2 linked regions of the Homo sapiens genome follow. The protein of the gene in region 2 purifies or fractionates together with the protein of the main gene of each other region. This does not show direct contact. Each region holds a gene or a part of one and is shown on either strand. Other genes may lie near its edges.

The links. The genes of interacting proteins can lie anywhere in the genome.
Region 1: the proteins of NUAK1 (region 2) and PPP1R12C purify together in Homo sapiens (affinity purification with mass spectrometry; 2 studies listed by BioGRID and IntAct, with this or other methods). This does not show direct contact.

The regions. Positions count from the first base shown.
Region 1 is NC_000019.10:55,114,633-55,122,015, reverse strand, and holds the start of PPP1R12C (protein phosphatase 1 regulatory subunit 12C), read left to right. Parts: upstream 1-4,378; 5' UTR 4,379-4,472; coding exon 4,473-4,793; intron 4,794-7,383. UniProt on the Homo sapiens protein: Regulates myosin phosphatase activity.
Region 2 is NC_000012.12:106,079,937-106,086,957, forward strand, and holds part of NUAK1 (NUAK family SNF1-like kinase 1), read right to left. Parts: intron 6,950-7,021; coding exon 6,798-6,949; intron 3,994-6,797; coding exon 3,928-3,993; intron 1-3,927. UniProt on the Homo sapiens protein: Serine/threonine-protein kinase involved in various processes such as cell adhesion, regulation of cell ploidy and senescence, cell proliferation and tumor progression. Phosphorylates ATM, CASP6, LATS1, PPP1R12A and p53/TP53.

The DNA of each region.
Region 1 (7,383 bases), on a different chromosome or scaffold from region 2:
GTAGTCCCAGCTACTCGGGAGGCTGAGGCAGGAGAATGGCGTGAACCCAGGAGGTGGAACTTGCAGTGAGGGGAGATCGCGCCACTGCACTCCAGCCTGGGAGACAGAGCGAGACTCCGTCTCAAAAAAAAAAAAAAAAATTATAGTTTGAGAGTTGGCAAATTGGGCTGGGCTCCGCTGGGAGTTCTTGTCTGGCTGATCTTGGCTGGACTTGCTCATGCATCTGCAGTCTCCTGGTGAATCAACAGGGGCTGGCTGTGGTCATCCCACTAGTGCCTCTTCATGTTCCCGCAGCTGGACCCAGATCCCTCCTGATTATAATGGCAGTGCTAAACTAACAGTGTCATTGAGGAGTTATGTTTGGCTGATAGTAAGAGACAGCTCCCCAAATAACAATAGTTTTGGTGAATTGGAGGTTTGTTTTCTCATATGTAACCTAAAAGACAAGAGGTAGGCAGTCCAGGGAAGGAAAGGCAGATCCCAACTGCCATCAGGAACTGAGGCTTCTAAGGCCAGGTGCAGTGGCTCATGCCTGTAATCCCAGCACTTTGGGAGGCCAAGGCGGGCAGATCATGAGGTCAGGAGTTTGAGACTATCCTGGCCAACATGGTGAAACCCCGTCTCTACTAAAAATACAAGAATTAGCCAGGCGTGGTGGCGTGCACCTGTAGTCCCAAGAGAATCGCTTGAACCCAAGAGGTGGAGGTTGCAGTGAGCTGAGATCATGCCGCTGCACTCCAGCCTGGGTGACAGAGCGAGACTCCATCTCAAAAAAAAAAAAAAAAAAAAGAAATTCCAGTTCTGGATTTGACAGTCCTCAGATTGAACCTTGTCTTGGCCAATTTCTAGCTCTGTGACTGGGGCTAGTCTCTTAGTCTCTGCCTCCTGGAGTTGATGAGATGATGTACATAAAATATCTGATAGGCATGTGATGTTGGCTGTGAGCATCTTCATATGCCACTCAAGAACATCATCTTTTGCTCTTGTCTTCCTGTGGTAAAGGTTTTGTTTTCACTTCTAGGGTCTGCTCTTTGCTCTCAATGGTAACAGTGGAATGTTGGTGCTTAACCTTGGAACTGCAGGCCCTCCTCACTGGTGTAAATAACCTCAGAAAGATAAGAAGAAAATGTTCCCACTTCTTCTGTAACAGCAGAAAAATAGATATTAGTCTGCACCATAAAGATGGTTCAGATAAGCAGGTGAAGTTAGAACATCCACAAAAGTATAAAATTGACTCTTCTGTCCTGTGTGGAGAGGGGTAAGAGTATTATAAGCCCATTCTGATTTCTGTTATTTTACTCTTTTTTGATTGCGCCAGTGCAATCCAGCCTGGGCGATGACAAGAGTGAAACTCCATCTCAAAACAAACAAACAAACAAACAAAAACAAACCATAAACACAAACTCATAAACAACATACATCCAGCCACAGACATGATTGCAAATACACACAATTATACATAAAGGCACAGAATACATACAGAACCAGAGCTACACGGTAACACCCTGAAGACCGACTTCTTGTTTTCCTGGGGGAAGGAGGTTGGTGTGTAAGTATGTGGAAAGTGTGGGGTTCAGGGACCACACCTAAGAGCCACCAGAACTATCCCTTTCTATAGAAACAGGCTTCGTGGCGGATGAAGACCCCATCTTGGGGTTCCACCAGATATTCCTACTAAAGAACATCAGCTGGGTGTGGTGGCTCATGCCTGTAATCCCAGCACTTTGGGAAGCTGAGGCGGGTGGATCACTTGAGGTCAGGAGATCGAGACCAGCCTGGCCAACATGGTGAAACCTTGTCTCTACTAAAAATACAAAAATTAGCCAGGCGTGGAGCACGCCTGTAATCCCAGCTACTTGGGAGGCTGAGGTAGGAGAATCACTTGAACCTGGGAGGCGGAGGTTGCAGTGAGCCGAGATCACATCACTGCACTCCAGCCTGGGCGACACAGTGAGACTCCGTCTCAAAAACAAAACAAAACCAAACAAAACAAAACATCAGCGATGCAATGATGCTTGGGTTTGCACCAATGATATGCAGGCTTGCTCTGCACAACTTCAGCTGACCTCCTCTCCACCGGGCCCTCACGCTGCCTCCTCTTCCCTCCTCTTTCCAGAACTATTGCCACTCCTCCAGATATGATGCACAAATGAGCAGGGTCGCAGTGGGAGTGGGCGCAGTGCGCTGATGCCACGGAGGTGTTGTGCATGACGTCTGGACACTAGACTAGCTGCATGTAATGGGAAAAGTTTGTGTTGTACCAGCGCATGCCTTGGAAAGACTTAAGTAATGCAAAAGGTTGTCCTTTAAAAAAAAAAAAAATCTGGCCGGTCGCGGCGGCTCACGCCTGTAATCCCAGCATTTTGGGAGGCCGAGGCAGTCGGATCACGAGGTCAGGAATTCGAGACCAGCCTGGCCAACATGGTGAAACCCCGTCTCTACTAAAAAACAAAAATTAGCCGGGCGTGGTGGAGCACGCCTGTAGTCCCAGCTACTCAGGAGGCTGAGGCAGGAGAATCGCTTGAACCCGGGAGGCAGAGCTTGCAGTGAGCCGACATCGCGCCACTGCACTCCAGCCTGGGCGACAGAGCAAGCCTCCGTCTCAAAAACAACAACAACAACAAAAAAAAACAAAACTACTGACAAGTTGCTCTACTTAACCCAAAGAAAGTGAAGGAGAAAGCGGCTGCCTCACCGCCTAGACATTGAGTCGCCGGATGTTTCAATGCCTCATGATACAATAAAACCACAAAAATTTTCGTAACAGCAGCAGCAACAACAACAACAAAAGAGAAAGAGAGAGGGAAAGAAACAGGCCTCGTGGGATGCGCAGTTTACGTCTCCGCGCAAACCCAAGGACTTCAGAGTGGGTGGGAAACTCCCACAGCGCTTGGGAAACAGTCTGTAGTCTCTGTCCCGATTTTGGCCCTTTTCTGTATGATTTTTATGGGACTCTTCCTGTCACAAAGTGCCAGCCACCTTCCCAATCTTGAGTTGGGCGCGGGATCCGTAAGGTGAAGATCAAGGTGTGCTCATCGCTTGGGCCCGCTGAAAGGTGATTCGCCCCCCACCTGCTGGAACTCCTTGCCCGGGACCACCAATCCCAGCATGCCTTGAGAGCGCGCGAGGGCCTGGGCGGTTCCCAGGAGGTCCGGGTGGGCGCAGGAGAAGCGCGGGCCAGTGAAAGCTCTGAGAGCCCTGTCCCTGTGGACACTGTGTCTTGGGTTCCTTTACTCGGTGTGGCTCAGGGATTACCATTAGGGAGTGGAGTGTGGATTTCTCTTGCCCCGAGCCCTAAATGCCTTGGGGCCCTGCCTTGCACCCCACTGTGCTTTTAGGGGTGTGGCCCTGTGGGCTACATTTCCCAGCGTGCCCTAGGATCGTGGTCCTGACCTTTTCACCGCAAATTTCATTTCCCAGCATGCCCTGCGAGGTCACCCAGGGAAGCTTGGAAGTGGACTGTCTTTCATGGCTTCTAGGTTGCGGACTCAGTTTCCCATGGTGCCCTGGTGAACCCATTCATTCATTCATTCCAAAAATATTTGCGATCAGGTTCTCTCAGGTTCTGTTCTAAGAACCGAGGACAAGTAGTGCACAGAAGACAAAAGATCCCGCTCTCGTGGAGCTTATTTCTAGTTAAGGGGTCAGGAAAAAAACCAAAATAAATAAAACCCAGCTGGGCATGGTGGCTTACGCTCGTCATCCCAGCAGGATTACAGGCCGAGGCGGGCGGATCATGAGGTCAAGAGATCAAGACCATCATGGCCAACATGGTGAAATCCCGTCTCTACTAAAAATATAAAAATTAGCAGGGCGGGGTGGCGCGCGCCTGTTATCCCAGCTACTCTGGGGACTGAGCCAGAATTGCTTGAACCTGGGAAGCGGAGGTTGCAGCGAGCCGATATCGCGCCACTGAACTCCAGCGTGGCGACAGAGCGAGACTCCGTCTCAAAACAAAGAAAACAAAATAAAACAACAATAACAAAACAACTCTGCCTCTCCCCGCACTCCCTCCCACGCGGCTGTCCAGTCGAATTCCTAACTGCCCCGGGGCAGTCTGCTATTCATCCCCTTTACCCGGTGCTACACACTTCCTAGTATGCCGTGGGGCACCCCTCCGGCCTGTAGACTCCATTTCCCAGCATTCCCCGGAGGAGGCCCTCATCTGGCGATTTCCACTGGGCGCCTCGGAGCTGCGGACTTCCCAGTGTGCATCGGGGCACAGCGACTCCTGGAAGTGGCCAAGGGCCACTTCTGCTAATGGACTCCATTTCCCAGCGCTCCCCGCGACCTGCCCAGCACACCCTGGGGCAGCGCCGTGACGTCAGCACGCCGGGCGGGGACCGGGAGATCCTTGGGGCGGTGGGGGGCCAGCGGCAGTTCCCGGCGGCCCCCGGGGCGGGCGGGCGGGCGGGTGGTGGCGGCGGTTGGGGCTCGGCGCTCGCTCGCTCGCTGGGCGGGCGGGCGGTGCGATGTCCGGAGAGGATGGCCCGGCGGCTGGCCCGGGGGCGGCGGCGGCGGCTGCCCGGGAGCGGCGACGGGAGCAGCTGCGGCAGTGGGGGGCGCGGGCGGGCGCCGAGCCTGGCCCCGGAGAGCGCCGCGCCCGCACCGTCCGCTTCGAGCGCGCCGCCGAGTTCCTGGCGGCCTGTGCGGGCGGCGACCTGGACGAGGCGCGTCTGATGCTGCGCGCCGCCGACCCTGGCCCCGGCGCCGAGCTCGACCCCGCCGCGCCGCCGCCCGCCCGCGCCGTGCTGGACTCCACCAACGCCGACGGTATCAGCGCCCTGCACCAGGTCAGCGCCCCCCGCCCGGCGTCTCCCGGGGCCAGGTCCACCCTCTGCTGCGCCACCTGGGGCATCCTCCTTCCCCGTTGCCAGTCTCGATCCGCCCCGTCGTTCCTGGCCCTGGGCTTTGCCACCCTATGCTGACACCCCGTCCCAGTCCCCCTTACCATTCCCCTTCGACCACCCCACTTCCGAATTGGAGCCGCTTCAACTGGCCCTGGGCTTAGCCACTCTGTGCTGACCACTCTGCCCCAGGCCTCCTTACCATTCCCCTTCGACCTACTCTCTTCCGCATTGGAGTCGCTTTAACTGGCCCTGGCTTTGGCAGCCTGTGCTGACCCATGCAGTCCTCCTTACCATCCCTCCCTCGACTTCCCCTCTTCCGATGTTGAGCCCCTCCAGCCGGTCCTGGACTTTGTCTCCTTCCCTGCCCTGCCCTCTCCTGAACCTGAGCCAGCTCCCATAGCTCAGTCTGGTCTATCTGCCTGGCCCTGGCCATTGTCACTTTGCGCTGCCCTCCTCTCGCCCCCGAGTGCCCTTGCTGTGCCGCCGGAACTCTGCCCTCTAACGCTGCCGTCTCTCTCCTGAGTCCGGACCACTTTGAGCTCTACTGGCTTCTGCGCCGCCTCTGGCCCACTGTTTCCCCTTCCCAGGCAGGTCCTGCTTTCTCTGACCTGCATTCTCTCCCCTGGGCCTGTGCCGCTTTCTGTCTGCAGCTTGTGGCCTGGGTCACCTCTACGGCTGGCCCAGATCCTTCCCTGCCGCCTCCTTCAGGTTCCGTCTTCCTCCACTCCCTCTTCCCCTTGCTCTCTGCTGTGTTGCTGCCCAAGGATGCTCTTTCCGGAGCACTTCCTTCTCGGCGCTGCACCACGTGATGTCCTCTGAGCGGATCCTCCCCGTGTCTGGGTCCTCTCCGGGCATCTCTCCTCCCTCACCCAACCCCATGCCGTCTTCACTCGCTGGGTTCCCTTTTCCTTCTCCTTCTGGGGCCTGTGCCATCTCTCGTTTCTTAGGATGGCCTTCTCCGACGGATGTCTCCCTTGCGTCCCGCCTCCCCTTCTTGTAGGCCTGCATCATCACCGTTTTTCTGGACAACCCCAAAGTACCCCGTCTCCCTGGCTTTAGCCACCTCTCCATCCTCTTGCTTTCTTTGCCTGGACACCCCGTTCTCCTGTGGATTCGGGTCACCTCTCACTCCTTTCATTTGGGCAGCTCCCCTACCCCCCTTACCTCTCTAGTCTGTGCTAGCTCTTCCAGCCCCCTGTCATGGCATCTTCCAGGGGTCCGAGAGCTCAGCTAGTCTTCTTCCTCCAACCCGGGCCCCTATGTCCACTTCAGGACAGCATGTTTGCTGCCTCCAGGGATCCTGTGTCCCCGAGCTGGGACCACCTTATATTCCCAGGGCCGGTTAATGTGGCTCTGGTTCTGGGTACTTTTATCTGTCCCCTCCACCCCACAGTGGGGCCACTAGGGACAGGATTGGTGACAGAAAAGCCCCATCCTTAGGCCTCCTCCTTCCTAGTCTCCTGATATTGGGTCTAACCCCCACCTCCTGTTAGGCAGATTCCTTATCTGGTGACACACCCCCATTTCCTGGAGCCATCTCTCTCCTTGCCAGAACCTCTAAGGTTTGCTTACGATGGAGCCAGAGAGGATCCTGGGAGGGAGAGCTTGGCAGGGGGTGGGAGGGAAGGGGGGGATGCGTGACCTGCCCGGTTCTCAGTGGCCACCCTGCGCTACCCTCTCCCAGAACCTGAGCTGCTCTGACGCGGCCGTCTGGTGCGTTTCACTGATCCTGGTGCTGCAGCTTCCTTACACTTCCCAAGAGGAGAAGCAGTTTGGAAAAACAAAATCAGAATAAGTTGGTCCTGAGTTCTAACTTTGGCTCTTCACCTTTCTAGTCCCCAATTTATATTGTTCCTCCGTGCGTCAGTTTTACCTGTGAGATAAGGCCAGTAGCCAGCCCCGTCCTGGCAGGGCTGTGGTGAGGAGGGGGGTGTCCGTGTGGAAAACTCCCTTTGTGAGAATGGTGCGTCCTAGGTGTTCACCAGGTCGTGGCCGCCTCTACTCCCTTTCTCTTTCTCCATCCTTCTTTCCTTAAAGAGTCCCCAGTGCTATCTGGGACATATTCCTCCGCCCAGAGCAGGGTCCCGCTTCCCTAAGGCCCTGCTCTGGGCTTCTGGGTTTGAGTCCTTGGCAAGCCCAGGAGAGGCGCTCAGGCTTCCCTGTCCCCCTTCCTCGTCCACCATCTCATGCCCCTGGCTCTCCTGCCCCTTCCCTACAGGGGTTCCTGGCTCTGCTCTTCAGACTGAGCCCCGTTCCCCTGCATCCCCGTTCCCCTGCATCCCCCTTCCCCTGCATCCCCCAGAGGCCCCAGGCCACCTACTTGGCCTGGACCCCACGAGAGGCCACCCCAGCCCTGTCTACCAGGCTGCCTTTTGGGTGGATTCTCCTCCAACTGTGGGGTGACTGCTTGGCAAACTCACTCTTCGGGGTATCCCAGGAGGCCTGGAGCATTGGGGTGGGCTGGGGTTCAGAGAGGAGGGATTCCCTTCTCAGGTTACGTGGCCAAGAAGCAGGGGAGCTGGGTTTGGGTCAG
Region 2 (7,021 bases):
ACCTTAATGAATATTTCTGATCAAATAAATATTGCCCAGAAAAGACGTTCAATTCCTCAGTGAATAAATGCAGGAATGGATGAGTGAATGCAGGTATGCGTGGATATATACACACAACACATGAATTGATTAATTCATGCATGAACACAGAGCTCTCCCATTCATATCATCAAAGCCCAGAGGCTGACTCTCAGCTGCCCCACTTGGTCTTATTAAGCTTCAGAGGTTTCTATCTCATCTTGGCCCTGGCCATTCAAAGCTTCTTTTCTTATCCACAGCAGCCGCGCTTCCATTGTCTTAAGGGGCAGCAGGCCATTTCCCCTATGCCCCTCTACTCTGAGCCCTGGGAGCTCACCAGATTCCCAGCCCTCTTGGAGGAGGTCGGCTGACCCTGGTGCCTGGACCTCTTCTCATTGTAAGACATTTTTACAGGAGCCTTCTATGGGAATTGTCAGCATTCCATTCTCCCAGAGAGTGGGCTGTGAATTTGGCCCGTTTTTTATTAATTGCAAATTAGTGCTGTGCTTGGTGTCTATTTTAGTAGACATGCTTCCAGAGTACGGAATGCAGCCCAAAGCAGCACATTGCTCTCATTCTTTCTGCTGACCGACTGTGTGAATATTTTTAGAAACCACACCCTCTCGCAGTGCCAGATAAATAATTTCCAATGCCAGATGTGTGCTCTGCAAATCAACATCAGGCAGGGAAGGGGAGAGGAATGAGCTACATGGCTCTCCCCACCACTGCAGCGACATGTGACAAGTTTAAACCAGTAGCATTTATATAGGCTTCCTAGGCCAAAGTCCTCCACCCTTGAAACGTGGAAAATGGATCCACATTTAGAGAAGCACCAGAGGGGGCTCCAAGAGAGGATCTTGCTGCTCATGTCCCGCTGGTTCGTGGCTCGTGTGTCTGTGGTCCCCCAGGTCCAGACACGGATGGCAGGGGCTCTCTTGAGCACAGAGGCCGGCTTGTGGCCATGTATCTGCCTGCCTTTGCCAGCATGGGTCCTTTCTAAATATGTTTCAGCAAAATGCTGAGTCAGGAAGAGTTGAGAATATACCACCAGAAGACAAATCAAGACCAGCTGAATCACATTTTTTTAAAACCTTGGAAGTGGATGGGAGATGATGAAAAGATAATTTGCCTGGAAGTCAAACACATGAGTTCTAATCCTGGCTCATCATTCCTTTATTCCAAAATCAAACCATTTTGAAGTACCTACTGTGTGCCAAGCACTAGTCTACACTCTGGGGAAGCAAAGACACAATAATTTAGTCCAGACTGATTCACTGTGTGATCGTGGGCATTATCCTCTAGACTTTCTGGGTCTAATCATTAAAACAAGGGGTTGGAAAAATGACTCCCAAAGTTCTTTAAAGATGTAGGATTCTCAGACCTAAGTAGGATTCCTTGAACAAAGAGGAAAGGAATTTAAAAGTGTTGATAATGGGAAGATCTGGTTTCTCTTTGGGACGTATGTGTGCATGCACACCCGTGCTTTACCTTGGGAAATGCCAGGATTAGAAATTCTTAAGGAAAGGTATATGCCTAAGCCTTAATTGATAATACTGCTTTGTGTGTGTGCTCTTTCCCTCCATCATGCACAGGCACCCTAGGTTGAAGAACTTGGTGCAGGGGAACTGTCAGGCCCAACATCATTGCCCTTTTGCTTACACAAATGAAGCCATTCTCCTGGGCTCCTGCCTCACTGTTTCCCTGCACAATTGCTTTCAGAATTCTAATCATTCTTTTCCTCCATTAGGGAATTACATGATTTCATAGAAAGCTATGTGTCTTATCACTTCTGGGAATACATCATGGGACCAAGAGGTCACACTGCACCATAGAACCCAACCCCTAGGCAAGAGGCTTACATTCCAGGCCTTGTAAAGATGACATTTAGTTTTGAGAGCTCTGGGGGCAGGTGGCAGGAAGGATCTGGAGAGGAAGTCAATAAGGTTGATGACACAAACCCTTAGAAAAATGTGGTGGCCCTCAAACCAAGACCAATTTTTCAGCCATGGCCTGACCACCACTCCCCAGGACCTAGGTAGGCACCTTCAGAGCAGCTGACTTCCGGTTCAATTCCCTCTCCAGTGGCCAGCCACTTAAGAAGGCTCCCAGTATAGTAACAGTTAAGCATGAATTGCTTTGATTGTAGTATTGTCTAAAATCTTCACGTTTATTATTGACTCTCCAGGACTGGGCACAGGGCATTGCACACAGTAACAGTTCAGAAAATACTCCTTGAAACAAAAATGAACAAATAAACAATAATCTGCAGAGACAGGAACTGGCAACTCTTGACAGATGAGGAAACTAAAGCCTAAATCATCAAGAAACTTACCCCAAATCCTGCCATTACTAAGGGGCAGGGTTGAAATATCTAACTCCAAAGCCACTGCTTTTAACTTTGACTCATTTGGACACGAGTGCTTAGCAGTTTACAAAACTAAACACAGAGTGTCTCATTCACTGCTCTAAGCAGGCCTGTGAGTAGTACTGTTACCCCGTTTTACAGCTGAGGAAACAGGGTTAAGTGGTTTTCCCAGTGTCAAGAAGCTAGTAAGCCATACAGCCCGGAATTTCCTAACTCTACAACCAGTGCTCCTTCTAGAATAATCCAACCACTTTGCCAGAAATAGACCCTGCGATTCCACTTCCTATTCCCATGGAGAACTACTTTGACCAACTATTTCCTGCTTATTCTATAGACTACATGTGACTACGGTCAAACACTCTGCAAGAGCAAGAGGTCACTGGGTCATGGCTTCCAGGGGCCTCTCAAAGGATGATGGTGACTAATGGTTGCTGCCATGATCTGTACAGAGAATCCCAACACCAAAGCAACTCCATCCTTCCAAGCAAGGAAACAAGTCTCATCACACGCTCCTCCACTGATAGCAGCAACAACAAAAAAATCATTCCCATGCTTTGCCCAGGGACCAGGGATAAGCCACTAACGTCACCAGCGGCCAATTGGAGGGCTCCTGCTGGTGCCGGGAGTACTAAGGCCGTTTCATAATGAAACCCATGCAGCGAGCTCCGTTTATTTTGAAACCGTATTTGCTTATTTTGTAGACGTGGTCAAAAGGACATTCAGAGGGCTCCCTGGGAGGCACTTGAACCCTGTGGGCCAGGAGAACTTTCTCCAGCTCCAGCAGCAGCCAGCAATAATACTCTCCGTGCAAGTAAACTCCAGCACTTGCTATTTCCCAACAGCAAGCACCATCCCCATTTTAGTCAGCTTCCCAGGTCTATGGCTGGTTTCAGGGGTGGGAAGGTGGAGAGGGAGAAGTAGGAGACAGGGTGGAGAGTGACAAAGAAATAGCCAGGCAAAGAGTTCCAGCTCTAAAATAATTTAGGATCCTGCTAGCAAATCAAGCAAAGCGACTTGAATTTGGGCTCGTGAAATCAGACAGACATGGGTTCAAATCCCAACTCTACTCTTTACCACTGGATTACCTTGGGCAAATTACTTAGTTTTTCTGTGCCTCAGTTTCCCTATCTGTGAAATTATGTAAATAACAGTACCTACCTTGTAGAGTTGTTGTAAAGATTGAATTTAAGTGATAGCAGGCAAAAATATAAAATACATATGAAATATGTATTGGTTGCTAAAAGTATTGTTATGGTGATGATTTTAGACTATGAGCTTCCTGAGGAGAGACACTGTATCTCAGTCATCTCATCTTACCCAGGGAGGAAGAACAATGCCCGGCATATAGTAGGAGATCAATAACTGCTTGTCGCATTTAATTGTTTGAACTGGACTTGGAGCTCAAGCAAAGAGACTCTTCCCCACCAGCCTGCCAGGTAGGAAGTGGCTGCCTTATTTCCAGGCTGCGGCTTGGAGCAGGTTAAGCCTCCATCCGGCTGCAAGACCCAGGCCCTGCATATCAATCGACGACGCAAGGGCTTTACCTTAATATTGCAGTTGTCATCGAGCAGTATATTTTCCAGCTTCAAGTCCCGGTGGACCACACCGTTCTGAAATGAGAAGACAAAGAGGGAATTGAATGGGAGCGGCTGGGATGAGAACAAGAGAGAAAGAGGAAGGAGGAGGGTGAGCAAAGGGAAATGTCTGACAGATTAAAGAAATGCACCAGCCCGGTGGTCTTCACCTCCATCCTTCAGGCTGCTCTCACTGTCTTGACGCTCCCCCGCCAGCGACCAACCAGCGACAGGAGAGCATTAGTCACTTGCTGTGTGGTTAAGGGAAAAATGACTGGAATCTGTTCTCCCCCAGAGCCTGTAAAACAGCAGGGGGATTCTTTGTCGGAATGTAATTCCACTGTGTGAAAGCAATATAATCCCAGGCAGCAGCAAACAATGTCTGTCTGGACGGGATTCCCAGGGAAGAAGCAGATTTCTCTACTGGGGACTCAAGATTGTGGGGCTCACAGGCACTCCTCATCTGTCTGTCTGTGTGCCTGCCTGCCTACTCAACGCTGGAAAGACATCTGGCTCAATCTATTCCGACCTGTTTTGATCTGTCCTGAGGATAACATTTCCTAAGCAACCTGGAGAGAAGACTCAGAAAGTCCCTCTCTGCTCAGCAGGACTCAGGGCTGGGTGAAAGATGAAGCATGAGAGCAGACCAATGAGACTGGGACCACTGGCCTGACCAAAGCAGGTGGCTGCCATCCTGCCTGACCTTTCCATTCAGGCAAACTCTGGCAAGGCTGGAGGCTGAACTTCAATGACCAGCAGCCAGCCAGCTGAAACGTGAAAAGCAGTCATCAGCCAATAGGCTGTCGGTCTACACAGCAGTAAACACTAGCCTTCTTCATTCTTTTTTAAGACCCGATTATCTTTTTAGGGGGTGGGTGGGCATGGGAAGAGCAGTGGGCCCGAAAGAACTGGCTATTTTGGGGTGAGTGGACAAGTAACAGGGGACATTGAATGATTCTGAACATCATTCAGCATAAAGGACATCTGCAATCGAAGCTGCTCTTTTGAGCAAACCAACAGGCATGTTTATGGGTGGTTCTTTCTTGTTTATTTTCCTTTTCATTTGACCATTCTTAATATCTCCAAAAGCACTGCTCAGAGGGAGAAATGAAAACATGTATTTCTACTAATCTTTTTCTAATTCAAGCCTGCAATGAGGTCTTCTGAATTCAGAAATGCACAAAACCGAGTCTGTTAGAAGAAAGATGTGGACTACAAGACACCTGATTCCATTAATTTTAAACATCAGGAGCAGTTTGGTTTACATTGCTGCATTCCTGGTTTTTGTAATAAGATGGAATGAGTCTAATAAAGCCTCATTCATACAGAATCCAAGTGTTCACACACTTCCAATATCAAAAATATCACCTCTGTGGTGATTTACAATGATACCTCATGATGAAATACAAAATATTATACGATTCAAATCATGAGCACATTTTGAGTCAACAAAGAGAGGTCAAATAATGTTCACATGAGTTAAGGGTTTTAGATTTGAGTAACTGTTCTCTAATTACTTACAGAGCCACTCTCAATTAAACATAATATTTAACAAACCAGGAGGCCCCATGTTGAGATCATTTATATGAAGAAGTTGACTCTGTTTTGGATGCCCTGTTGGACTCAAGTCACGTTATCCTCAAAGTAAATGACTGTTTAGGGTGTGACAGATCTGGAGAAAGTCTGAATGAGATGAAATTCATGGCCAAAGTGATGAATAACAATAATGGCTGAGACATGGCTTGTAGTTATCTGTGTACTTTATGCCTTTTCCAGAAACCAAGAGTGGCTCTACTGTGGCTATATTATTATTGTTATTATTATTATTTTGGAGATGGGGTCTCACTTTGTCATCCAGGCTGGAGAGCAGTGGCACCATCATAGCTCACTACAGCCCCAAACTGCTGTGCTCAAGGGATCCTCCTGTCTCAGCCTCCCAAACAGCTGGGACTACAGGTGCGCAACCTCATGCCTGGCTACTTTTTAAAAAAAATTTTAAAGATGGATCTTGCTATGTTGCCCTGGCTGGTCTTGAACTCCTGGGCTCAAGCAATCCTCCCCCCTCAGCCTCCCAACTAGCTTGGATTATAGGCATGAGCCTGTCTGCGGCCATCTTCTGAGCACATCCGTGCATGTAGGTAACCTATGCAAGAAAAGGCACCAAGAGCATAGAAAGGTTTCAAGAACATTTCTCCTAGTAATTCTACTTCTGGAATCTCTCTTAAGTAAATTATTCACATGAGAGGAAAATATTCATATATAAAGATACTGATCACTATTTGTCATAATCAGAAATTAGAAACAGTCTCAATGTCCAACAATCAAGAATTACAAAGAATTTTTAATAATATAGGAAAATATTTAGATTAAAGTATTAAGTAAAAAAGCATGACACAAACGATGTAAAAATGAATCCACCGTGGTACCCTAGATTGGATGCTGGAACAGAAAAAGGTCATTGGTGTCTCCATTTTGACAAATGTACCACAGAAATGTAAGATGTTAATATTAGGGTAAACTAAGAAAGGCATAGATAGGAACTCTCTGTACTACCTTTGAAACTTTCCTGTAAATCTAAAATTATTCAAAATTAAAAGTTTACATAAAAAAATAAATGTGAGAAGGAGGAGGAAGAAGACTGAAAGGAAACAAGCAAAAATGTCAAAAATAGATTATCCCTGGATTCCAGAATCACGGGTGATGGTAATTTTCTTCTTTCTAGTTCATAAATTCTCCATACATGCTCCCATGAACAGATATCACTTTTATAATAGGAAAAAAATCATGCAGTGCCATAAAAACCATCTACGGCCAAAGCTGCGGGCCAGGCGCAGCCATACCTTGTGACAATAGTGCACAGCAGAGACGATCTGCCGGAAGAAGTGCCGGGTCTCCCTCTCACTGAGGCGTCGCCGCTCACTGATGTAATCGTACAGCTCCCCTTTGCTGGCATATTCCATGATGATCACAATCTTATCTTTGTTCTCAAACACTGCAGAGGGAAAACAGCAATACACAAACACCCCGTTTAGCCAACAAGCTCACTTATGCTACAGAGAATGCG